Linked DNA regions of Homo sapiens: regions 1, 2, 4 and 5 are each linked to region 3. The links come from fine-mapping of genetic effects on gene expression. A gene starts in region 3. Each other region holds a variant in brackets. All regions are shown on one strand. Distances are from middle to middle. Region 1 has its middle 20 kb from the start of KDM2A. Region 2 has its middle 7.5 kb from the start of CABP2. Region 3 holds the start of RAD9A (RAD9 checkpoint clamp component A). Region 4 holds the start of CARNS1 (carnosine synthase 1). Region 5 has its middle 2.8 kb from the start of CORO1B.

The links.
Region 1: its variant is fine-mapped to the expression of RAD9A in minor salivary gland (GTEx, PIP 0.96).
Region 2: its variant is fine-mapped to the expression of RAD9A in transverse colon (GTEx, PIP 0.98).
Region 4: its variant is fine-mapped to the expression of RAD9A in cerebral cortex (GTEx, PIP 0.98). The same link has a PIP of 0.9 or more in blood mononuclear cells and esophagus muscle.
Region 5: its variant is fine-mapped to the expression of RAD9A in whole blood (TOPMed, PIP above 0.99).

What each region holds. Positions count from the first base shown.
Region 1 is chr11:67,097,091-67,102,189 of GRCh38, reverse strand. No RefSeq gene overlaps it. Among named protein-coding and RNA genes, the nearest start is that of KDM2A, 20 kb to the left of the region's middle. RefSeq lists enhancers at 1,660-1,779, 1,496-1,996, 2,190-2,299. The variant A/T (reference allele first, on the strand shown) is at 2,506.
Region 2 is chr11:67,513,383-67,518,481 of GRCh38, reverse strand. No RefSeq gene overlaps it. Among named protein-coding and RNA genes, the nearest start is that of CABP2, 7.5 kb to the left of the region's middle. The variant G/A (reference allele first, on the strand shown) is at 2,299.
Region 3 is chr11:67,389,468-67,394,566 of GRCh38, reverse strand. It overlaps RAD9A (RAD9 checkpoint clamp component A), which reads right to left and starts at 2,581. Exons shown (of 11, transcript NM_004584.3): 1 at 2,489-2,581; 2 at 2,336-2,406; 3 at 1,785-1,913; 4 at 957-1,071; 5 at 777-876. The coding sequence starts at 2,522. LOC100130987 (a long non-coding RNA gene) reads right to left here. Exons shown (of 4, transcript NR_024469.1): 4 at 2,880-3,169. RefSeq lists enhancers at 1,960-2,464, 2,499-3,414 and a silencer at 2,365-2,734.
Region 4 is chr11:67,414,644-67,419,742 of GRCh38, reverse strand. It overlaps CARNS1 (carnosine synthase 1), which reads right to left and starts at 4,065. Exons shown (of 10, transcript NM_001166222.2): 1 at 3,980-4,065; 2 at 3,541-3,567; 3 at 2,066-2,336; 4 at 1,223-1,312; 5 at 500-987; 6 at 82-256. The coding sequence starts at 3,543. RefSeq lists an enhancer at 2,492-3,327. The variant C/T (reference allele first, on the strand shown) is at 2,489.
Region 5 is chr11:67,443,728-67,448,826 of GRCh38, reverse strand. It overlaps a transcript of CORO1B not described here. Among named protein-coding and RNA genes, the nearest start is that of CORO1B, 2.8 kb to the right of the region's middle. RefSeq lists enhancers at 2,566-2,645, 4,856-4,955, 4,616-5,099 and a silencer at 5,086-5,099. The variant C/A (reference allele first, on the strand shown) is at 3,018.

The sequences.
Region 1 (5,099 bases), 290 kb after region 3:
CCAGGGCCGTGTGCAGGTTGATCATTTTGAGGATGTGGGTGCAGGAGATTGAGAGAGTTTAGGCTTGAAAACCCCTGGAATAATCTTGGGAGTTGCTATGGTCTGAATGTGTTCCTCACAGTTTATGTGTTGGAAACAATCCTCAGTGCGACAGTTTTGGAGGTGGGGCCTAACGGGAGGTGTTTAAGTCATGAGGGCTCGGGCCCTCAGGAGTGGATTAATGTTGCTATAAAAGAGAGTGGGGGCTGGGTCCAGTGGCTCACGCCTGTAATCCTAGCACTTTGGGAGGCTGAGGTGGGTGGATCACTTGAGGTCAGCAGTTCAAGATCAGCCTGGCCAACATGGAGAAACCCCGTCTCTAATAAAAACTACAAAAATTAGCCGGGCGTGGTGGTGGGTGCCTGTAATCCCAGCTACTTGGGAGGCTGAGGCAGGAGAATCGCTTGAACCCGGGAGGGGGAGGTTGCAGTGAGCTGAGATCACACCATTGCATTCCAACATGGGTGACATAGCGAAATTCCGTCTTAAAAAAAAAAAAGAGAGAGAGCGGGTTCACTGTCTTCTGCTCTTCTGCCATCTGACAATGCAGTCTGAAGGCCCTTACCAGATGCCAGTGCCTTGATCTTGGACTTCTCAGCCTCCAGAACTATGAGAGTTCACTATGTTACCCAGACTAGTCTCAAACTCCTAGGCTCAAGGGATCTTCCCACCTCAGCCTCCTGAGTACTGGGACTACAGGCACGTGCCACTGTTCCTGGCTATAAATTTCTATTCTTTATAAATTATTTAGTCTTGCCGGGCACGGTGGCTCATGCCTGTAATCCCAGCACTTTGGGAGGCCGAGGTGGGTGGATCACAAGGTCAGGAGATCGAGACCATCCTGGCTAACATGGTGAAACCCCGTCTGTACTAAAAATACAAAAAATTAGCCGAGCATGGTGGTGGGCACCTGTAGTCCCAGCTACTCGGGAGACTGAGGCAGGAGAATGGCATGAACCTGGGAGACAGAGCTTGCAGTGAGCCGAGATCGCACCACTGCACTCGAGCCTGGGTGACAGAGCGAGACTCCCTCTCAAAAAAAAAAATAAATAAATAATCTAGTCTCAGCTATTTTGTTATAGCAGCACAAAGGGACTGAGGCAGGGGTGGATAAGGTGACCCCTTTCTCTCTGAGAGAAGCCAGATCTTACTATGACATATATATTTTTTTGAGATAGGGTCTCGCTCTGTTGACCAGGCTGAAATGCAGAGGCGTGATCATGGCTCACTGCAGCCTCAAACTCCCGGGCTGAAGTGATCCTCCCACCTCAGCCTCCCAAAGTGCTGGGATTACAGGCATGACCGGGTGTGGTGGCTCATGCCTGTAATCCCAGCACTTTGGGAGGCTGAGGCAGGTGGGTCACCTGAGGTCAGGAGTTCAAGACCAGCCTGGCCAACATGGCAAAACCTGGTCTGTATCTAAAAATGCAAAAGATTAGCCAGCAGTGGTGGTGCGTGCCTGTAGTCCCAGCTACTTTGGAGGCTGAGGCAGGAGAATAGGTTGAACCAGGGAGGTGGAGGTTGCAGTGGGCTGAGATCACGCCACTGCACTCCAGCCTGGGTGACAGAGTGAGACTCTCTCAAAACAAAACAAAGTGCTGGGATTACAGGCATGAACCAGCATGCCTGGCCTTCTTTTTTTCTTTTTTTCTTTCCTTTTTTAAACTTACTACTTTCTGTCTACAGTCTTCTACCCCACAGAAGTGGAGAGAGAAGTGGGTGGATTCGGGAAGCATCATGAAAGCTCACAGGAAACCAACTTCCTGTGACCACCAGTTATGCCAGAGGGTCAGTGAGAACCAAGGCAGGTCCAGGCACTGCGCACAGGTGCCCTACACAGGAAGGAGAGCGTAGAGTCCTAAACAGGCCACAGTGGCCCAGGCTAACAAACAAGAGTTTCTCCCTCCTGCAGGCTCACCCTCTGCCCCTCTCCCCTACCCCTGCCTTTGGGCTTCCTGCAAGGCCTAGTCCTCAACCCTCTGCTCTTCTCTCTCTTGAGGCTTTCATTTATTCTCAGAACTTCAGATGTCTTCTCTGCGGGTTTGTCCCTGTGGCTGCTACGGCCCTGAACTTTCCCCACCACCTGGCCAGTGACTTCTCTGTTGGAGATTCCCCTGCACCCTCCTGTGTGAAATGAGGTCTATGCTGTCCTCCCCTTCAAACAGGCATTGGATACACTCTCTCCTCCCTGCCGCCTCCTCTGCCTCCAAACACATGCACAGGCCTTCCCTGCTGCACTCTGTGAATTCCCACAGCCCTGAAAATCCATTCACCCAGCTTGGCAATTACTGCATGCTCGCTTGCGTTTGATTTTTTTCTGAGACAGAGTCTCGCTCTGTCGCCCAAGCTAGAGTGCAATGACAGGATCTCAGCTCACTGCAACCTCCACCTCCCGGGTTCAAGCAATTTTCTTGCCTCAGCCTCCTGAGTAGCTGGGATTACAGGCCTGCGCCACCACACCTGGCT[A/T]ATTTTGTATTTTTAGTAGAGACGGGGTTTCACCATGTTGGTCAGGCTGGTCTCAATCTCCTGACCTCAGGTGATCCGCCCACCTTGGCCTCCCAAAGTGCTGGGATTATAGGCGTGAGCCACCACGCCTGGCCTCACTTCTGTGAGTGTGTCTGGTTCTCTCTCCAGTGGAGTAAGCTTCCTACAGAATGGGCTTGCTGTGTGCCTGTTTCCTCCACCATGTCTGGAATCAGGCCCCGAAAATAGTTTTCCTCATTCACTAAATGCTTGCGAAGGGTAACAGGAGAGGGGCCCCTGGTGTAGTGGCCGATGTTGGGGGCGGGGAGACAGGCAAGAGGGTTTGCCAGGAAAGAGGTGGAATTTGTAAAAGTAACTATTGGAGGAGTACATTGCAGGCACATAAAGTATTTGCATCTGAGCAAAGACTCAAATGGGAGTGAAATTATTGGAGGAGGAAGACATTGAGTCACTGCCAGGAAGGCCCAGCTGGTAGGGGTGGAGTTGGAGGAAGAAGAGGTAGAGGATACCCCGGGGAGAAAGAGCTGGTGGCAAGTTTAGAGCCCAGGATGGGACAAGGTTGATCACTGACAGCCACTAAAGATGGGAGAAACAGCTTGGCAGCCAGCACTGGGCACATGGCAGGCAGTTAGTTGCTGGAGGCCAGATACCCAGAGGGAGGAGGTGGTAATGGGCAGTGGTGATAGCGACTAGAGTGAGACAGTGACAGAAGAATGGGAAGAGGCATCCAAGTGGGTCAGAGAAAAGGAGCAGTGTGAAGTGTGGCAGAGGACATGGGGTGTGGAGGGTGGTGGCAAACTTGTAGTCTAAGCTTTGCCTTATGGTTGGGAGAAGAATAATAAAGGCCGAGGTACATTTGCATTTCTTGGTGGTTCCTATCCAACTCCATTCAGTGAGGTTGTTCCTACAGGTACCCAGTCTCCCTTGGAGATGCCCCATGGGTGGTACTGGGGAGAATAGAGACATCTTCCCTCTCCTGACCGGGTGCAGCCGGGTCAAATTCGGTTTGACCCAGCAGACCTCCTTTTTTAGGTTGCTGACTCCCAAGCAGGTGGCCTGAGGAAGTGGAGAAAGATGGACATCATTCCCATCTGGCTTCCTGCCCATCCCAAACCTGGTCCTCCAGCCCCCAATCAATTCTTCTTCTTCCTTTTTTTTTTTTGTTATTGAGATGACGTTTTGCTCTATTTTTTTTTTTTTTTTGAGACGGAGTCTGGCTCTGTTGCCCAGGCTAGAGTGCAGTGGTGCGATCTCAGCTCACTGCAAGCTCCACTCCCGGGTTCAAGCGATTCTCTTGCCTCAGCCTCCCAAGTAGCTGGGACTACAGGCGCCCGCCACCAGGCCCGGCTAATTTTTTGCATTTTTAGTAGAGATGGGGTTTCACCGTGTTAGCCAGGATGGTCTCGATTTCCTGACCTCATGATCCACCCGCCTTGGCCTCCCAAAGTGCTGGGATTACAGACGTGAGCCACTGTGCCCGGCCCCGTTTTGCTCTTGTTGCCCAGGCTGGAGTGCAGTGGCGTGACCTCGGCTCACTTCAACCTCTGCCTCCTGGGTTCAAGTGATTCTCCTGCCTCAGCCTCCCAAGTAGCTGGGATTACAGGCGTCTGCCACCATACCTGGCAAATTTTTTGTATTTTTAGTAGAGACAGGGTTTCACCATGTCAGCCGGGCTGGTCTCAAACTCCTGATCTCAGGTGATCCACCCACTTCGACCTCCCAAAGTGCTGAGATTACAGGCATGAGCCACCACGCCCAGCTGCCCCCAATCAATTCTGAGAGCCACCTTCACCCTGACAGATAAACACATAGACACACACTCCAAAAGGCTGGGATTACAGGCATGAGCCCCTGCGCCCTGCCCAGACCCTGTTCTTAATGTAAGCAAGTGAGTGTGTCTTTGTTTTTTTGTAGGTTTTTTGTTTGTTTTGTTTTTGTTTTTTGGAGACAGTCTCACTCTGTCACCCAGGCTGGAGTGCAGTGGTGTGATCTCTGCTCACTGCAACCTCTGACTCCCAGGTTCAAGCAATTCTCCCTGTCTCAGCCTCCCAAGTAGGTGGGATTACAGGCACCCACCACCATGCCCGCCTAATGTTTGTATTTTCAGTAGACACGAGGTTTCGCCATGTTGGCCAGGCTGGTCTCGAACTCATGACCTCAGGTGATCAATCCTCCTCAGCCTCCCAAAGTGCTGGGATTACAGGTGTGAGCCACTGTGCCTTACTTCGAATTCACCCAGAAGCAAACCTTGAGGCAAGGATTCAAGTGCAAGAAGTTTATTTGGGAAATGGTCCTAGGAAATACTGACAGAGGAGTGGAAAGTAAGACAAGGGAGGGAAGAGAACCAACGAAGGGTGCATCGTCGAGCAAGTCACTGCAGTGGCTGCTGGTGCTGCCTGGCTGGACACCTCTGGGAGACAGTGTAGAAGGGGACTCCACATTTTCCTTATCCACCCGCTGCCACCTGCCATTGGTTGTGGGCTGCTTCCAGAGGCTGTTGGCTCCCTGGCACACTCACTGCCCCATGTGTGTGCAGAGTCAGTGGCCTGAGCAACCCCTGGTCAGAGACACAGAAT
Region 2 (5,099 bases), 120 kb before region 3:
CTCAGCCACTGGCCCCTTCAGGAGACACCTCAGCTTTTGGGCTGACACCTCACTCATCCAGGGAGCCCCCAGCCACTAACTGAGCACAGCATGGGGAACCAGGACCTGGACATTTCTGCCTAATGCAAGGCTCCTCTAATGGGCAGTCTTTGCTCTGAGCTCCCCTTTGGGGCGGCCAAGGCAGACAGATCTGCGTGGAGTCAGAGGCTCGCCTGCCCAGTCCTGCTTCCTCCCCCTTTACCTTCCTCCCTCCCTAACTCCATCTCAGCATCTTCCTCCTGGAGGACCCCAGACACTCAAAGCATATCCCAGTCTTCAGGGCCCCATTTTCCAGATTGAAGAAATTGACAGGCTGAGTGCCCTCATCCTTTCCTGCTGCTATAACAAAATACCTTAGACTGGTATTTTATAAACAGTATGAATTTATTGCTCACAGTTATGGAGGCTGGGAAGTCCAGGGTCAAGGTGCAGGCAGTTGGGTGTCTGGAGAGGGCCAGGTCTCTGCTTCCAAGATGGTGCCTTGAGCTGCTTCCTCCAGAGGGTGCCTCACGTAGCAGAAAGGCAGGAAGCACATGAGGGCCTGGCTACTCCCCCCGCCCCACCGCCACCCCCAGCCCTTTTATAAGGCACTAATCCCATCCATAAGGGCAGAGCCCTCATGGCCCGATCGTCTTCTAAAGGCCCCACCCCTTACCGTTGCTGCACTGGGGATTGAGTTTCAACATGCATTTTGGAGGGGACACGAACATCAGAGCCACAGCACGCGGGCCAGGTGCAGTGGCTCATGCATGCAACCCCAGCACTTTGAGGCCAGGAATTTGAGACCAGCCTGGGCAACATAGCGAGACCCTATCTCTACAAAAATAAAGCAAAAATTAGCCAGGTGTGGTGGTGCATACCTGTAGTCCCAGCTACTTGGGAGGCTGAGGTGGGAGGATCACGGGAACCCAGGAGGTCAAGGCTGCAGTGAACTATATGATTGCACCACTGCACTCTAGCCTGGGCAACAGAACAAAACCCTGTCTCTAAAAAACACTTTTTTAACTAAAAATAATAATAACATAAACAATAGCACCAAGTCAAAGTGACCTGCTAGAGACTACGTGGCCTCACTGCCCTCTATCCCTACACGCGGCTAGGCTATTCTTCCTAAAATGCCACTTGCATTTTGTCACACCCCTGTTCAGGACCTCGCCATGACTTTCCATTACCCCCAGGTTAATCCAGGGCCTTTGCCTGCACAGAGGTTCCAGGAGAACACGGGAGTGGCATAAAGCCACACACAATCAGGATGAAGGGTGGTGGGACTTGCACCCAGGCCCAGGGACTCTGAAACTACAGTGCCAACTAGGGAGGGTGCCTCGGAGTCAGGACCGGCCCAGGCCAGATCTTGGCCTCTTCTAGCTATGCCGCAAGCCTCATCTGCAGCTTCTGCCTGCTGGGAGCGAACGACCCCTGACCTTCCTCATCATGAAGGGGTGAGAGTGCCCAGTGCCTGTGCCTGGTCCTCACATGGCGCCTGCCAACAAGATGGCCCTGGGACAAAGCAGGCAGGCGGCCTGGGGATGTGCGCTGCGCATTCTGGAGACTGGATGCTGAGGTGCTGGAGCTGGCTGCAGTGGCCTCAGCACCACTCTCCTGGCAGATCTCAATTAATCCTTAATCCTCAATTAGGTAATCACCTCTGCCAATCTGGCAGGACTAGGGATGTGGATAAGTTGCCCCAGCCTCAGTGGCTTCTCTGGGAGCCAGGATCCACACTCCCACCCTTCCTTCCACCACCCTCACGGCTGGTACAGATGGTATTGCTGCCTGAGAAGATGCCTGTCCCTGCTGCAGGGGCTGAGGGGTAGTGATGGCCATGAGGAAAAGGGAAATCAGAACCCTACTCAGGGTCAGCCTCCCACCACCTCCCCAGGCCTCAGCCTGGCAGGCTCTGCGGCTAGAGAACTGGGAGTGGCTGTGGGGTGGTCTGAATCAGGGCAGTGTGTCTGCTGGCAAAAGAAGTGCTCCCAGCTCCCCCAAATCTCACACACACTTCCCAACAGATAGCAACTGGAGCAGGGGATCCCTTAAGCCTGTGAGATCGAGGCTGCACTAGGCTGGGGAAGGAACAGTGGGCAGGGTTGAAACTATGGCAAGTCCAGAACCCCTGCCCCCGCTACAGGGGGCACCTGCTGCCCAACTCCTCCGATTCTTGCCAGAGCAGCCCCAAGCTATAAGATCTTCTGATTTAGGCCGGGTGCAGTGGCTCATGGCTGTAATCCCAGCACTTTGGGAGGCCGAGGCGGGTGAATC[G/A]CCTGAAGTCAGGATTTCGAGATCAGCCTGGCCAATATGGTGAAACCCCGACTCCACCAAAAATACAAACATTAGCCAGGCGTGGTGACAGGCTCCTGTAATCTCAGCTACTCGGGAGACTGAGACAGGAGAATTGCTTGAACTCGGGACACAGAGGTTTCAGTGAGCCAAGATTGTGTCAGTGAGCCAAGACTGTGTCACTGAACTCCCGCCTGGGCAACAGAGTGAGACTCCATCTCAAAATAAACAAACAAACAAACAAACAAAAGACCTATAGGTTTACAGAATGACTGTGAAGATAGCACAGAGGGTTTCCCAATACCCCACGCCCAGATTCCCCTATATATCAGTCAGGGTTCTCCAGAGAAACAGAACAATAGGATATCTTGGTAGATGATTGATGATTGATAGATAGATAGATAGATAGGTAGATAGATAGATAGGTAGATCGATCCATAGGGAGTCTTTCAATTGGCTTTGTGTCCCCATCTTTGTGTATGTTTGTTTATTTTTAGCACTTTTTATGCTTTGGCACTACAAGCTGCTCCAGGATCATCTTGTATATTTCCTGCCCCAGTCCTACTATCAGTCATTTCTCCGAGGAGCCCTGGTTCATTTTATTGGAGAATGGTATTAGACACCAAGATCTGGGGCGGGGCATGGTGCCTAATGCCTGTAATTCCTATACTTTGAGACGCCAAGGTGGGAGGATCACTTGAGTCCAGGAGTTCAAGACCAGCCTGGGCAACATAGTGAGACCCCATCTCTACAAAAAAATTTTAAAAATTAGCCAGGTGTAGTAGTGTGCGCCTGTAGTTCCAGCTACTTGGAAGGCTGAAGTGGGAAGATCACTTGTCCCTGGGTGTTCAAGGCTTCAGTGAACTAGGATAGCACCCAGTTCACCACACTGCAGCCTGGGCAACAGAGCAAAGCCCTGTCTCTCTAAAAAAACAAAAAAGTGGGGGCAGGGGCCGGGCACAGTGGCTCACACCTGTAATCCCAGGACTTTGGGAGGCCAAGGCAGGCAAATCATTTGAGGTCAGGAGCTCAAGACCAGCCTGACCAACATGGTGAAATCCCACCTCTACTAAAAATACAAAAAGAATCCCGGCGTGGTGGCGGGTGCCTATAATCCCAGCTATGCAGGAGGCACCATGCCCCACCCCAGAGCAGGAGAATGGCTTGAACCCGGGGGGCAGAGGTTGCAGTAAGCTGAAATCCCACCACTGCATTCCAGCCTGGGTGACAGAGAGAGACTTCATCTCAAAAAAAAAAAAAAGAAAGAAAAAAGAAAAGAAAAGGAAAAGAAACCAAGATCTGGGTGCTTGTTGCTAGTGGGTGTAGCAGGGAGGGGAAATTGTTTCCAGGTCTTCTCTGCTGATAACATGAGGAGATACGTGTGTGTGCATGCTATTCTGTGTATACAGACATTCATAAATATTCCTGTATGTAAGCAACTGAATCTCTATTAAGCTGTACATGAGTTCATCCTGATGCTTCCAACTCCAGCCCATTACCACATGGATCATTCTAGCCACCCCACTTGCTTATCTGTAACTTCTCATTCCAACAGTGACCCCCATCATCCATCCTCTGTTTACTTAATTGTTCAGTTCCAGCTACATGTGGAGTGATTTTGGAACTGTTAACCCATATTCCTGTGGGGTACAACTTTCTCAACGAGTGCGGTGCTTATGTGCAGTTCCTTTTGCCTTTAGTCTTACAGACTCCCTCATTTCTAGGTCAGCACCTTATTCCTTCAGCCCCTACAGTGAGGTTGTTGCACACATTTGTAATATAGCTAGTTTCTTTGGTTGCATTCTGCATTCCATCCTGGGATCCGCTGACCTCCAAGATGAATTTTTTTACATTTGCATACATTAAAGTTTACTCAGCCGGGAACCGTGGCTCACGCCTGTAATCTACTTTGGGAGGCCAAGGAAGGAGGATGGCATGAGCCCAGGAGTTGGATGCAGCAGTAAGCCATGATCACACTACCGCACTCCAGCCTGGGCAAAGAGCAAGACCCTGAATAAAAAATAAAAAATAAAAACACAGAAAGTTGGTCAGGAGTGTTGGCTCACGCCTGTAATCCCAGCACTTCGGAAGACCAAGGTGGGTGAATCACCTGAGGTCAGGAGTTCGAGACCAGCCTGGCCAACATGGTGAAACCCTATCTCTATTAAAAATACAAAAATTAGCTGGGCATGGTGGCGTGCAGTTGTAATTCCAGCTACTGGGGAGGCGGAGGCAGGAGAATCGCTTGAACCCGAGTGGCAGAAGTTGCAGTGAGCTGAGATTGTGCCACTGCACTCCTGCCTGGGTGACAGAGTGAGACTCCGTCTCAAAAAAAAACAAAAACAAAAACAAAAAGTTTCCTCATACAGAAGAGTTTCACTCCCCTATGCCTCACCTATTCAGTTTCACTCCCTCTACCCCAGGCCCCAGCAATCACAGATCAATTTCTGTATAGTTTTCCCTTTTCCAGAATGTCACAGAATTGGAATCATACAGTATGTGGCTTTTTCAGACTGGCTTCTTTCACTTAGCAAAATGCATTTAAGATTTATTGATGTCTTTTCATGGCTAGATAGGCGATTTCCTTCATTGCCCAATAATATTCCATTGTATGGATATGTCAGTTTGTTTAACCATTCACCTATTTTTTTTTTTTTGAGATGGCGTCTCACTTTGTCACCCGGGCTGGAGTGCAATGGCATGATCTCAGCTGACTGCAACCTCTGCCTCCCGGGTTCAAGTGATTCTCCTGCCTCAGCCTCCCCAGTAGCTGGGATTACAGG
Region 3 (5,099 bases):
CTCTGAGCAGTGCTGGCTCAAAAGAACCTGGGGAAACAGATGTCAGGACCCAAAGGGATCTTCAGTCACCCTGAGAAATGAGCAGGACCTTGGGCCACTTGAATGCAAGCAGTGACCAGCATGGAGCAGGGGGAGAGCCCACTCCTCTCTGAGCTGGTCCTCGCCAGGGACGTTTGCTTCAACTGGAGTCCCCATTTCCCTGGCCCCAGACAGCCCCCAGTGCTCGGACTGCCCAGAACAGCTCCACCCCATAGCTGATTATTCAGCCTCCCTCCAGCCTCCTGCCCTGGCCTTGGGGACTCCTCGATCCTGGGCAGTCAGGAAAAGAGGCTGCCGTTGAATGGGGAACACCTCTGGAAGGATGCCCAGGCCGGAGAAGGGGTCTGAGCCTCTGAGCCACAGGTTATGGGCAGACCTTCAAGGTTACTCAAGCCAGACAAGAGATTTGGTGGCAGGCCAGAAATGTGCTCCCTAGAGGAGGAGTTGGAATGGGTTTGAGCAGCCAGAAAGTCAAGTCAGACCTTTGGGATGGAGAATGCAGGCTCCTAACAGTAAGGAGAATGGAGCAAGGAGGCGCCTGCCCCTCCTCCATGCCACCGTCTGCCTTTAAAGAGCCAGGTAAGGACCTGAGCACATAGCGGGCCATGGGATGTCTTTGAGGTTCACAGAAACTCTGTAGGGAAAATGAAAGAGGTACCTTCTAAAATCAACCCCTTGGGGCCCCAAAGAAGGAAGAGAGAGACCCGGGGCTGAGCTGAGGGCAGGGGTGTGCTCACCGTGCTGGGGCGCGGAGCATGTGGGGGCACGAGGCTGGGTCGAAGACGGCCTGCAGGGACTCACAGTCCTGGAAGGACAGGTTGTGAGTCTTCCGCACCCCTGGATGGGCGATAGGGTCTCAGTGGGCCTCGCCGACCTCCCTGCTGAGGCACCCCTTGGCTGGCCGGCTGCCCACTCACCGAACTTGCAATGCAGCTGGACCACCAGGCGGCTGCTCCGGCCATTCAGGGAGATGCAGCATTTTTCCACCGTCTTCTCCAGCATCGCCAGTGAGCGGAAGACAGACAGGAAAGACTGCATGGGATAAGACACCTCAGCCTAGCATCACATCTCTGCAACAAGCTCTCCTGTCCCATGCAGGCCCACACCCATCATGGGCCCAGCATGTAACTCTGGGAAAAGGGCTCCCACGTCACCTCGGGCACTGGCATCCTTCTAGGCCTCATTCATGCTCTTCCTTATGCTTGGAATGCCTTGAAAGACCTGCTTACCTTTTTTTTTTTTTTTTTTGAGATGGAGTCTCGCTCTGTCACCCAGGCTGGAGTGCAGTGGTGCGATCTCAGCTCACTGCAACCTCCACCTCCCGGATTCAAGCAATTCTCCTGCCTCAGCCTCCCGAGTAGCTGGGATTACAGGCGCGTGCCACCACGCCCAGCTAATTTTTGTATTTTTAGTAGAGACGGGGTTTCGCCATGTTGGCCAGGCTGGTCTCGAACTCCTGACCTCGTGATCCGCCTGCCTCGGCCTCCCAAAGTGCTGGGATTACAGGCGTGAGCCACCGCGCCCGGCCAAAAGACGTGCTTACCTTTCTTGACGAACTTGAGCGTCACCACCCTCTCAGGTCCCCGCTGTGATGCTTTTACCATGGCCCTCCCTGTGTTTTGCATGGATTGGGCTTGCACGTGTCTCTCTCCCCACTTAGCATCTACTGAGTACCCCAGGGCAGAGGCACAGCTGGTGGAGATTCCTGGGGTGGAGTAGTGCCACTGCTGAGGGAAGGGCCTCACCTTCATCAGGATCTTACAGCGCAGCAGGTCCTGACCAGGGGTGGCTGCCTGGTATTGCTGGAAGAAGAGCGGGGCAAAGAGAAAGCAGGCATAGGCAGAGCGGGAGGAGTTCACCGTCCGGAGGGAGAGCTGGGCCACGAAGAGCAGGGAGAGGGACGTGGTCAGGGGGCAGCCACAGACCCAGCCCTCTGGCTGCTTCTGCTCACACACTTGCCCTATCGTCCTCCCGCTCCGCCACCACCTGCTGAAAAACCCTCCTTTCCCCATGGAAGCCTTCAGAGTCGGCCCCGGCGCTGCTGCCGCAGAGGAGGGGTCGCACACCCAGGCCTTCCCCGAGTTTCTCTAAGTGCACGTCACCCCCTGGGAGCTCGCAGGACAGCTTTCCTCAATTCACACACCGGCCTGGGAAGATGACAGCCGCCAGACTAAGAAACTGAAACTTTGCCGACAAATCTGCCAGCGGTCATCCCGCCTAGTGGGGGCGAGACTCTAGTCCGGGTTACCCGCTCCCGGCTGGAGTCCCACCCGCCCCCCACACCCTAGCCCCTCACCCCGTCCTCCAAGGGTTCCAGGTAGAGCTCGTCCCCGATGCGGGACAGGGAGTGGACGGCCTTGCCGAGCACTGCGGGGAGAAGAGCGGAAGGGGGTTAGGCTGGCGGCTCCGCGGCTGCTGCACCGCCGCTGCCAGGCCGACCTGCACTCACCCTTCACGTTGCCGCCCGTGACCAGGCACTTCATGCTGCCCCAGCGCTCCGCCAGCGGCCAACACTGCCCAGCTCTCCGCGACCTCCGGGTCCGGGGTCCCTTCCCGCGCACCGCCCCTGCCGGCCCCGCCCCCGCCTCCCCATTGGTCCACGTGCAGGCGCCTCCGTCACGTGAGAAAAACGCTCACAGGCTCTGCCGTCACGTGACGGCGCACGTTGTCCGGGGTGTCACGTGACCGGGGAGGCCCGCGGCGCCCGCCAGCCAGCTGCTCCTGGCTCCCCCGGCACGCCTCGGCCTTCCGTGCCCCTGGAGATCGGGGCGTTCCGCGGGCCGCGCACCGGATTGCGAAGGTCAGAGAGGACGCAGCTGTGGGGCGCGAGGTCCCTGTGCAGTGGACCGAGTGCTGGACTCGGAGTCGGAGTGTGGGGGCGAGCTCTCTGGGGTCACCCACTTAGTAGAGTTCCCGGGCGTCTGCCGGGGGATACAGGGTGCAAGCAAGACCATCGCACCCACTCTGGGCCTGAGACTCGGACTCCAGCAGCAATCCCCAACTCTAGAAAGAAGTCAAAGCAGCTTGCTTGCAGCAGCCGGGAGTGGGAGGTGGCTGCTCCTTCCGGCTTCGAGGATCCTTTAAGGAAAAACGGCAGTTTCTCCAGGCAGAAAGGGGTAGAACGGTGCCCCTGGCAGAGGGAAGAACAAGAGTAAATGCTCAGCGGTGTGGGCTCCGCCCCCTGGAGAGGGGAGTAGGTCTGTGAGTCTCAGAGAGGCGTAGGGGCCGCCAGATGATGAGGGGCACCGCTGGGACGCTCTGGAAACGTTTTACGAGGGTAGATCGTGGTTATGTGCCTTTTTTTGTTTGTTTGTTTTTTGAGACATATTCTTGCTCTGTCACCCAGGCTGGAGTGCAGTGGCGCGAACACGGCTCACTGCCGCCTGGAACTCCTGGGCTCAAGGGATCCTCCCATCTCAGTCTCCTGAGTATCTGGGACCACAGGCACACCCACCACGCCCGGCCCTTTTTTTTTTTTTTTTTTTTTGGGTAGAGACGGAGTCTTGCCATGTTGCCCAGGCCGGTCTCAACTGTGGGGTTCAAGCTGTCTTTCCGCCTTGGCCTCTCAAAGTGGAGTGAGCTACTGCACCGGCCTGTTTTTTGTTTTTTGTGTGTGTGTGTGGGGTTTTTTTGTTTGTTTGTTTTGAGATAGAGCCTCGCTCTGTCGCCCAGGCTGGAGTACAGTGGCACGATCACGCCTCCCAGGTTCAAGCGATTCTCCTGCTTCAGCCTCCCAAGTAGCTGGGATTACAGGCGCCTGCCACAACGCCTGGCTAATTTTTGTACTTTTAGTAGAGACGGGTTTCACCATGTTGGCCAGGCTGGTCTCGAACTCCTGACCTCAAGTGATCCGCCCGCCTCGGTCTCCCAAAGTGCTGGGATTACAGGCATGGGCCACCGCGCCCAGCCCCGGGTCTGTATTTTTAAAAGACCCCAGACTGGCCGGGTACGGTGGCTTACGCCTGTAATCCTACCACTTTGGGAGGCCGAGGCGGGCGGATCACGAGGTCAAGAGATCCAGACCATTCTGGCCAACATGGTGAAACCCCGTCTCTACTAAAAGTACAAAAAGTAGCCGGGCATGTTGTCACGCGCCTGTAGTCCCAGCTACTCTGGAGGCTGAGGCAGGAGAATTGCTTGAACCCGGAGGCGGAGGTTGCAGTGAGCCGAGATCGCGCCACTGCACTCTAGCCTGGCAACAGAGTGAGACTCCATCTCAAAAAAAAAAACCAGACTGTGTGCCAGGTGGGGATGCATCAGCTGGAAGGTATTCCCCTTCCCCTGGGCTTCCGGGTCCACGTGTGTAAAATGTAAGGGAGTCCTGGAGAAACTCACTGACCCCTACTCTCCCCACAGTACCAAGGCTCTGGTAGTTCTTGGAAGGGCCCAGGGCATCCCTGTATTCCTGCAGGGCCTGCCCGTGCCTTGCCCCTCAGGTCCTGTGGTAGTGCAGAAGATATATTTATCTCTGCCACCCTTGCTCTCCAGACCCACTTTCAAATGAGTTGAATTGATACATAATAATTGTACACATTTGGATACATGCATACACTTTGTTTCTCCCTCTCCTTCCCTTCTGCTCCCCTCGTCACCAGCCCTTGCCCCTTCCGTGGAGCCTTGGGGGAGGAGGTTACTCTTCCCTTCCCCTTCCCGGGGGATCCATGGAAATAGTGCCCCTGTCCCTGGGCATCCGGCTCAGTATGCTGGAGTCATCCTTGACCTCATGCTCGCCCTCACCCCTACACAGTCTTTCAGTTAAGTCCTGACCACTCTGCTTCCCAAACAGGTGGCAACTTAACAGGTGGCAACTTTGCCCTCCTCTTCCATCTCCAAGGCCTAGGCCACCATCCTCTCACCTGGATGACTGTAACAGCTCTCAGTGGTCTCCTGCCTCCACCCTGCCCCCTCCAGGCCACTCTCCATACAGCAGCAAAGTGACCCTCCTAAAATGTCCATTGTGTCATGCCTCTCCCGTGTTTGCACACTCCAGTGGTTGCCATAAAATCCAAACTCTGCCCTGAACCTGCAGGAGCCGCCGCCACCCATTTCTCCACCTGTGG
Region 4 (5,099 bases), 25 kb before region 3:
ACGGGGAGGTCTAAGGCCAGCACAGAGTGGCCAGAAGGCCACACCAAACTCCCATCCCTGGTCAGCCCAGGTGGCTCTCACCTGAGCAGGGCAGCTGGGCAGGTGGGTACACAGCCTCCACCAGGACACTCTCCTCCTCCTCCAGCTTCTCCAGCAGCGCCAGCACTGTGTCCACCACTGCACCCAGCTCTGCCCGCGGGTGCAGACGCCATGCCTGCCGCCCCCGCCAGCGCCAGCCACTGAGCTTCACAGCTACCTGCAGCAAGGAGGGGAAAGGGGCCTCCTGGACACCACCCCAGGTACTGCAGGGTGGGGCACTTCCGCCACAGGAGCCGGTGAGTAAACTGAGGCAAAAGGGCAGGGGATTGCCCCAGAGATGGGGCAGGGCAGCGGCAGGGCTAAGAGGTAGGGACACCTTTCCAGCCAGACTTGGTAACCGTGCCTGGGTCCCATCCTGCTGGCATCTGTACAGACCTCAGGGTGGGCGAGAGTCTGTTACCTGCAGGATATCACCCAGGGCCTCGGAGCGCAGAAAAGCCTCCACTTCCTCTTTCACCAGCGTCTCCTGGCCCTCTTTGCCACTCAGCTCCACCAGCCGTAGCCCTAGGCTGGCATCCCCTCCCCGCAGCAGCCCCGGCGGCTTGTAGGTGAAAGCCAGGGTTGCTGGCACAGCCACACCACCCTGCTGGGCCAGCAACTGCCTTGTCAGCAGCCGGTCCTCCAGCAGCCGGGCCAGCTCAGCCGAAGCTCCTGTGGGGCAGGTCAGGTCACGGGCGAGTTCTGCTGCCTCTCGGCCCCGGCCAGGCCCCAGGCCCAGGCCTGCCAAAAAGTAGGTGGCACGGCGCGGGGGGACAAAGTCATCCAGGAATGTCAGGCCCCCAGGGTGGAAGCTCACAGCCTTGGAGACTAGCAGGGCTGCCTCACCCGGCTGCCCGGGTGCTGGCACCTTCATCAGCCAAGCAGGGGACAGGCAAAGGAGCATGTTTCCTGTGGGCAGAGAAGGCAAGTGGCTGGCCAGGGAAGGCTTGATGCCCTATGCCCGGGCCCCCGGGTAGCGGAGTGGAAGCAGCTGATCCCAGAACCCATCCCCATTCAGCATGGCAGCTGCTCCGGTGGAATGCAGGCAGTTGCCAGGGTTGGCGGGTATTTTGGGATGTGGCTGGGCCAGGGCAGGGCTGCCCTTTCTGTAGAAGGGGATGGGGAAACTTGAGCATACACTCACCCGGGCTCTGGACCCCACCCTCCAGCAGCACAGGCAGAAAGGTGCTGGGGGAGCCCAGAACGCACAAGGTCACCTCCGCCCCAGGACAGCCTCGGGAAAGAGAACATGGCCCAGCTCACCAGGGGCGCCCTTGCTGTCTCTCTGCCCACCTTCCACCACCTCCACACCCACGGCCCCACCCTGAGCCCCCAGAGTTTTCCCAGGAATCGGATGAGACAGGGGACAGGCAGGGAATGGAGGTGCCCGCCAGTCCTGCCCCGTGAAGCTGGTTTCCCCTTTCTGCAGCTGTTCCAGAGGTGCTGTGGGCTAGGTGACTGGAGACCTGAGTTCTAGCCCGAGCTCTGACTTTCTGTGTAACCTTGGAGGAGTCAGTGTTCCTCCAAGCCTCAGTTTCCAAGTTTGTACAATGGGACCAAGTCTGTGATTCTCAGGTATTCTGCCTGTGAACCCTCTGTCCACACAAAGTCTGATATATGTAACAGGCGTGGAGGGGCAGAAGGGGAGGAGTCTGGGGGGTCTCAGCTGCTGAGCTGCCTCCACCACAGCTCCCAAGACCTTTCTCTAGAAGCTTCGGTGCCACACAACGTGGTTTCCCAATCCCAGGGCTGGGTCTTTTTGGGGAGGGGGTGAGGGCAGGGAGCCCAATCCTTGACCTCACTGGTGCCAGATGCCCTTGCAAACAATGTCCGCCTACCCTAGGCCAACTGGCTGTGCCTTCCCTGCCTTCAGATGGAACCAGAGCCTAGGGGAAGGGGCCGACCTTGACAGGGATGAGCAAGCAGACTGGGCTGAGGGCCCCTCCCTGCCCCCAGAGGTGCCTCCCTCCAGGGAGCCCTTGGGCACCTGTGCGGGGCACCTGGCCGCGGTCCTGAGTCTCCGGAAGGCCAGCTTGCTGCAGACAGCTCTGCAGGAGGCTGTAGTAGTAGACAGTCCAAGCCCGGGCCTCGGCCCCCTCGGGGGATCCCTTGCAGTCCAGGCCCACGTCCTGGCGCCAGGAGCCAGGGAAGCAGCCTGTGGGCGGCAGGCCAGAGCCCCCTCCCCAGGGGCCCTCTTCCTCCAGGTCCTTGGAGCCCAGTGGGCAATCCCACTCGGGACCCGATGGATCCAGGGAGAGCTGAGAGGGCAGAAGTGGTAGGTCTTGGGCAGGGTGGGCCAGTGGGCACATTAAGTCACCCAAGGGTGTAAGCCCCCCACTCTCCCAGCCTGGGCTATGTTCAGGGCTGACACCGTCCCGGGGACTAGGAGAGGAAAGGCTTGTGTTGGGGG[C/T]GAAGGCTTGTTAATGGGAACGCAACCGTGGGAGTGCTTTGTAAACTGTTCTGTGTGGTGCCCCTGGGGGGAGGGCAGGAAGCAATGTCTTGCCAGCCAGCCCCTCCCGCCCCTGCCATGCTGGGCTCCGCCTTAGCTTGCTTCACAGCAGCAGAGTTTTCTGCTTGTTTTGTTCATGGAGGCAACCCCAGCACCTAAAGCGTGCCTGGCACACAGCCACTTCTCAGTAAGTGTTTGTTGACTGAAGAGTAGATGAATGAACGAACCCAGCCATCACTCTGAGGTGGCTTATTTCTGTCTCATGACCCGGCATGGAGTGTGCTGACACCTAAATGTGATTCCACTGTCATCCCCACGTAGGTCTTGAAGCCCTACTGTGTGCCCAGCCCTGGGCTAAACATTAGGAGGCTAGACAGTATCCCCCCTGCAGATATTTTGAGTCACGGAAATGCTTTCTTTGGATGAAACCTAACGTCCCTCCCCTCTCTGAGGCTGGCGCCCCCCCAATATGGGGCTGCTGGGAGGCTTCGTGTGAATGGAATTCTTGTTCTTTGCAGTCCCCAGGCCTGGACAGGCCTGGCAGCTGAGTCTGTCCTCCAGGGGACAGGCTCGGCCACCTTGAGCAAGTCGTGAGGTCTCTTTGGACCTTGTTGCCTGGTGCCTGCCCTCTCCCATCCCCTGGGGGCTGATGAGGCTGGGACGAAGAGAATCTCTTGGTTGTTGGGAGATGGTGTGCTGTGGCCCAGACGGCAGAGGACTGGGCCTCATGCCTGGGCTCGAATCCCAGTTTGCCAGGGCCAGAGCCTCTGTGCCGTCTCCTAGAAGGTGAGCTCCCTGAGGGGCCATGGAATGAATGAATGTCACAGGGCACTAAGAGTGCCCACCTCCCAGGATGCAGCCGCAGGGTGGGGGTGGGGGAGCTGGTCGTGGGTCTAAGCTGTCTGCAGGGGGCAACTCCCAGGCTTAGGTCCTAGGTGCTGCCTGCTGTCCTCTGGGCCCACTCTCTGCCCAGGGACTTGGGCCTTGTGGGGGAGGGACCACAGAAGACTCACCATCTCGTGGGTGGAGTGGCTGAGAGACTGATGGCAGAGACAGAGGGACAGAGAGACGAAGGAGTCAGGGCAGCCAAGTCCCTGCCTGGCCTTCCAGCCCCTAGACTTTGGGAGTGGAGAGGTGGCCGACACCTGTCCCTGCAGAGAGAGGCCAAGGCAGCCCCACCCCCACCCCGAAGGTAGGGAGGGATTTCTGCTGCCCAGACCGAGTGGCTCCTGCCCCAGTGCGGCTCACAGGTCCTTCCTGCCCTGGGGTCCGGGCTTGGCTCTGCCCCTCCAGCGCGGGGGGGAGTTGGGGGCACCGGGTCCCGGGGGTGGGGGGCGTAGCGTCGAGGGTCCCGCCGCGGGGAGCGGGCGCCCGGGGTCCTCGTCCCCGCGACTCCTGCCCCGGCCGCCCCCCTCCCTGGCTCTCCCCGGGGCGGGGCCGGAGCTGGGGTACCTGGCGGCGGCAGCGGCTCGGCGGGCGTGGCGGGCGGACTCGGACCGGGCGGGATGCAGCGGCGGCGGCGGTGGCAGTGGCACAGCGCCCGGCCCAAGCGGCGCCGCTTTATATAGAAACGCCTGGGGCATGCCCAGTGCCCAGCGGGGGCGGCGCGGGGCGGACGGACCGACAGGGACCGATAGGGACCCGCCGGGGACGCGCCCCCCCCCCCCCCCGCCCGTCAGCCACGAAAACGTCCCAGACCTGGGGGCGTGTGGCGGGACACGGACCCAGCAGGAGGAGGGCACGGAGCAGGCAGGGAGAGACGGGGGTCTTCAGAGACACAGAGGAAGTCCCGACAGAGGGCCAGGTACAGATGGACAGGGACTGTCGTCGAGGGTCACAGACGTAGGGCTGCCATGAAGAAAGAGGGAGGCCCACCATGGAGAAGAGATGGAAAGGAGGGGCGGGGAGAGCCGGAGCAGGCAGAGACTGGTACTAGGGCCCGCCCTTAGGGGTGGGGTGCCCGGGAGAGCAGCCTGGAGCACACAGCCCTGAGCCCTACCTTTGGATGGAGGCCGGAGGTCCCAGCCCTGCAGCTTTCTGTCCCAGCTGCCAGCGCTTTGCCCTATTGCACGTTCTCCCAGAGAGGCCCTCCTGGGCCAGGGTCTCCACACATCTGTGCAGCCCCCTCCTCACTTCTGGACCCAGTGGACTTGCACACAGGGGCCAGGATGTCTATAAGATCCAGCCTCTCCTGGTGCGGTGGCTGCCTATAATCCCAGCACTTTGGGAGCCTGAGGCAGGAGAATTGCTTGAACCCAGGAGTTTGTGACCAGCCTGGGCAACATAGCAAGACCCTGTCTCTATAAAAAAAAAAAATTTAAACTAGCTGGTTGAGGTGGTGTGGGCCTGTAATCCCAGCTACTTGGGAGGCTGAGGTGGGAAGATCACATGAGCCCCGGGGGTCGAGACTGCAGTGAGTCCTGGTTGTGCCACTGCACTCCAGCCTGGGCAATACAGTGAGAGCCTATCTCTCTCGCTCGCTCCGCTTTTTTTTTTTTTTTTTTTTTTTTTGAGACAGAGTTTCAGTGTGTCGGCCCAGGCTGGAGTGCAGTGGTGTGATCTCAGCTCACTG
Region 5 (5,099 bases), 54 kb before region 3:
TCTCTAAAAAAAAAAAAAAAAAAAAAAAAAAAAAGAGTGCACTCTCTGGTGACCATCAGGGGTTGTTTGAATCCTGGCTCCACCACTCACAGGCTGTGTGACCTTCCACAAAGCTCTTAGCCTCTTTGGGACTCAGTTTCCTCGTCTGTAAAATGAGGATCATAATAATGGTACCCATCTTGCAGGAGCGTGAATCCCTATGAAGTGTTCGTGATTGTTAGCCATTAATTTGATGACAGCAGTGGGCACCCCCCGGTCTCACTCAGCCCTGGGACCAATACTGAGCCACAGGCCAGCGCCTGAGTGGCAGATCGCCTGCCCCCCAGGCCTCCCCACCATGGCACTGCCTCCTGTTCCACAAGGGAAGTTCTCACCCTCCCCATCCCACTGCAGTCCACACTCTGAGCGCAGGGCCTGGACTTCGGTCCCCATTAGGGCACTCCGCAGTGCCCTTCTCCCTTTTTCTGGGCAGGGCTCCCAGGGCCTTTTCAGCATGGCAGGCAGATTGGGAAATAAAACCTCAGCATCAGCCACTTGCTTTCAGCTCTGGTCCACACTCCAAACCCTACCTCTTGGGGAGTGGGCCAGTCCCACGTCCAAGGACCCCAAAGGGAATCCCACCCATAATGCGTGATTTCTGTCCAGAAGAAAGAGCAGCAGACCATCACCCTTGGTCAGCCAGAGCAGCGGATGCTCAAGAAAGGAATAAGTGAGGTAGCTGGTACCCCAAAGCCGCCAGCCTGAGGGAGGCGGGGCAGACTCCACCTGTGGGACAGGATGGGGTAGAATGCCTGAAGGGTTTTGCGGAATAAAGAGGAGTTCTCAGGCCAGGCACGGTGGCTCACGCCTGTGATCCCAGCACTTTAGGAAGCCAAGGCAGGCAGATCAACTGAGGTCAGGAGTTCAAGGCCAGCCTGGCCAACATGGTGAAACCTCATCTATACAAATACAAAAAATTTGCCGGGTGTGGTGGCGCATGCCTGTAATCCCAGCTACTCGGGAGGCTGAGGCAGGAGAATTGCTTGAACCCAGGAAGCGCGGGTTGTGTAAACCCCCGAGGGGTTCGCCTTGCCTGCTGCCTAGACAGAGCCAATTCACGCAGAGCCGGCTGTGCAGGAGACTGCAGTTTTATTCTTACTCAAATCAGACTCCCTGAGCATTCTCAGGGAGCTGAGTTTTTAAGGATAACTTGGTGGGTGGTGGGAAGCCAGTGAGCCAGCGGTGCTGATTGGTCAAGGATGAAATCAGAGGGAATCAAAGCTGTCATCTTGCACTGAGTCAGTTCCTGGGTGGGGGCCACAAGATCAGATGAGCCAGTTGATTGATCTGGTGGTGCCAGCTGATCCATCAAGGGCAGGGTCTGCAAATATCTCAAGCGCTGACCTTAGGAGCAGTTTAGGGAGGGTCCGAATCTTATAGCCTCCAGCTGCATAACTCCTAAACCATAATTTCTTTTTTGTTTGTTTGTTTGTTTTGTTTTTTTGAGACAGAGTTTTGCTCTTGTTGCCCCAGGCTGGAATGCAATGGCGTGATCTCAGCTCACCACAACCTCCGCCTCCCGGGTTCAAGCGATTCTCCTACCTCAGCCTCCCGAGTAGCTGGGATTACAGGCATGTGCTACCACACCCAGCTAATTTTGCATTTTTTAGTAGAGACGGTGTTTCACCATGTTGGCCAGGGTGATCTCGAACTCCCGACCTCAGGTGGTCCGCCCGCCTCGGCCTCCCAAAGTGCTGGGATTACAGGCGTGAGCCACCATGCCCGGCCCTAAACCATAATTTCTAATCTTGTGGCTAATGTTAGTCCTACAAAGGCAATCTAGTCCCCAGGCAACAGGGAAGTCTGCTTTGGGAAAGGGCTGTTACCATCTTTGTTTATAAACTAAGTTTCTCCCAAAGTTAGTTCAGCCTATGCCCAGAAATGAACAAGGACGGTTTAGAGATTAGAAGCAAGGGCCAGATGAGGTGGCTCATGCCTGTAATCCCAGCACTTTGGGAGGCCGAGATGGGCTGATCACAAGATCAGGAGATTGAGACCATCCTGGCTAACACAGTGAAACCCTGTCTCTATTAAAAATACAAAAAAAATTAGCCAGGTGAGGTGGTGGGCGCCTGTATTCCCAAATACTCGGGAGGCTGAGGCAGGAGAATGGCGTGAACCCAGCAGGCGGAGCTTGCAGTGAGCCGAGATCGCACCACTGCACTCCAGCCTGGGCGACAGAGCGAGACTCTGTCTCAAAAAAAAAAAAAAAAAAAGAGAGAGATTAGAAGCAAGATGGTTGGTGAAGTTAGATCTCTTTCACTGTCTCAGTCATAGTTTTGCAAAGGTGGTTTCCGTTGCAGTAAGCCGAGATCGCGTCACTGCACTCCAGCCTGTACAACAGAGCAAGACTCTGTCTCCAAAAAAAAAAAAAAAAGAGTTCTCTCAGTGGTCCATGGAGGAGGGTTTTGTGTTAGAGAAAATGGGCATGAAGGTGGGCTCAGCCCCAAGACATTGCCCAGCCACACACCTCCTGCCTACCACATCCCAGGGGACCAGTCTCCTGCTGCCGTCTGGAAGACTCACTCCTTCTCCGGTGAGAGATGCCCTTCCTTCCCTCTCCTTCATAGGTGCCAGACATTGATCCTGAGAATTGTGATTATGAGTATTGTTCAATTCTACATTCAGGGCTGCTGCTCATTCATTCATTCCTCATACATTACTTGATCCCATACTGAGTGTTGGATCTTGTTCAGGGTGCTGGGAATACAGTAGGAAGATAGGCAAAGTCCTTCCCCTCAATTTGCTGACATCCTGGTGGAGGCCGACACAAACCAAATACACCAATAAGCACCTGATGCAACATCAGGCGGCGCTGGAGAACACAGGCCGGGTGGTGGCTCACACCTGTAATCCCAGAGTTTTGGGAGGCTGAGGCAGGAGGATTTTTTGAGGCCAGGAGTTTGGAACCAGCCTGGACAACATAGGAGACCTCCATCTCTACAAAAATAAAAATTAGCTAGGCATGGTGGTACGTG[C/A]CTGTAGTCCCAGCTACTTGGGAGGCTGAGGCGGGAGGACTGAGCCCCAGAGTGTGAGGCGGTAGTGAGCTAGGACCGTGCCACTGCACTCCAGCCTGGGCAACTGAGCAAGACCCTGTCTCCCAAAAAAAGAACAATGCAGTCAGGACAAGTAAGACCAAAGAGTGGCTGGGTGAGGAATGGTCCAGGAGAGCCCTAGGAGGAGGTGATGTCTGACCAGAGACCTGAATCGAGTGGGGAAAGGAGCCTTTTTGGGATCTGAGGAAAGAGCTTCCAGATGGAGAGAACAGGATGTGCCCAGGCCTCGGGGTGGGAAGGAAGGTGGGTGGGATCTAGATGATCCTTCTAGCCCCAGGGTTTATAGAGCACTAGGAAAAGCAAGGGCTTTGGACCCAAGCCGATGGGGATTGCATCCGGCTGGATGACCTCAGGCAGGCACCGCACCTCTCTGTGCCTGTTTCCTCAATGGGGTGTGGCAATGGGAATGAGATGGGAGACAAGCCCGAGGTCACCCTCAGACACACAGTGGGGGCCTCTTTTAGCCAGAGACAAGGCTCCTGTGACCTCTGCTCTTCCCCCGCTTCGTCCTCCATCCATCTCTTTCTGGGAAAGGGAGGGTGCCATCGGTCAGCCAGGGCAGTGGATGCTCAAGGAAAGAATAAGGGAAGTAGCCGGTGCCCCAGAGCCGCTGGCCTAAGGGAACGGGGGTACATTCCACCTGTGGAACGGGATGGGGTGGGTCTGGAGAGGCCAGTCTGGGCTCCTTGTCACAGGCGCTGGCTAGAGAAAGAGAGAGGCCTGTGAATGGATCTCCAGGCCTTCGAGGGAGATGGTGGAGAAAAGAAGGCAAGGTGCAAGGGACTCACTGGCCATGGCCCCCTTTCAAATTGTAATAAGAAAGCTCAGCAGAATGCACAGGTGTTTACCCTGAAAAATGGGACTCCTGGGTCTTCCACTCGCTCCATAAACACTGCTATTTTCTGGATGGGCACGGTGGCTCACAACTGTAATCCCAGCACTCTGGGAGGCTAAGGCAGGAGGATTGCTTGAGCCCGGGAGTTCAAGAGCAGCCTGGCCAACATGGTGAAACCCTATCTCTACTAAAAATACAAAAAAAATAGCAGGGTATGGTAGCAGGCACCTGTAATCCCAGCGAATTGGGAGGCTGAGGCAGGAGAATTGCTTGAACACGGGAGGCAGAAGTTGCAGTGAGCCGAGATCGCGCCATTGCACTATAGGCTGGGAGACAGAGCGAGACTCCATCTCAAAACAAAACAAAAAACACACCAGCCTGGGCGACAGAGCAAGAGACCCCATCTCTACAAAAAGTAAAAGAAAAATTAGCCAGGCGTGGTGGTGTGTGTCTGTAGTCCCAGCTACTTGGGAGGCTGAGGCAGGAGGATCCCTTGAGCCTAGGAGGTCGAGCCTGTAGTGAGCCATGATCATGGCACTACATTCTAGCCCGGTAGTGACAGACCTTGCCTCAAAAAAAAAAAAAAAAACCACCCCAACACCTGCTGTTGTTTTCTTTACATTGTTAACCAAGAGCATGAAATTTAGGCCGGGCATGGTGTCTCACGCCTGTAATCCCAGCACTTTGGGAGGCCGAGGCGGGCGGATCACGAGGTCGGGAAATCGAGACCATCCTGGCTAACATGGTGAAACCCCGTCTCTACTAAACATACAAAAAATTAGCCGGGCGTGGTAGTATAAGCCTGTAGTCCCAGCTACTGGGGTGAATTTCTTGAACCTGGGAGGGCGGAGGTTGCAGTGGGCCGAGATCGCGCCACTGCACTCCAGCCTGGGTGACAAAAACTCCGTCTCAAAAAAAAAAAAAAAAAAAAAAAAAGAGCATTAACTTTGATAACTTAAAAAGAGTCACGTGAACATATCCACTGTCCGTGTAGATTCTACATTTATTTGTTGGGGGCGGTAATGGGGCCCCTTGGAGGTGTGCGTTCCGTCGGGGGCCGGGAAGGCGGGGCCTCACCCAATCCTGGAGACTCCTGCGGATGCCATTATGAGGAGCAAGAACGCGAAGGGGCCTCGGGTCCGCTGTAAGGCTGCACCCGCACCTGCGGC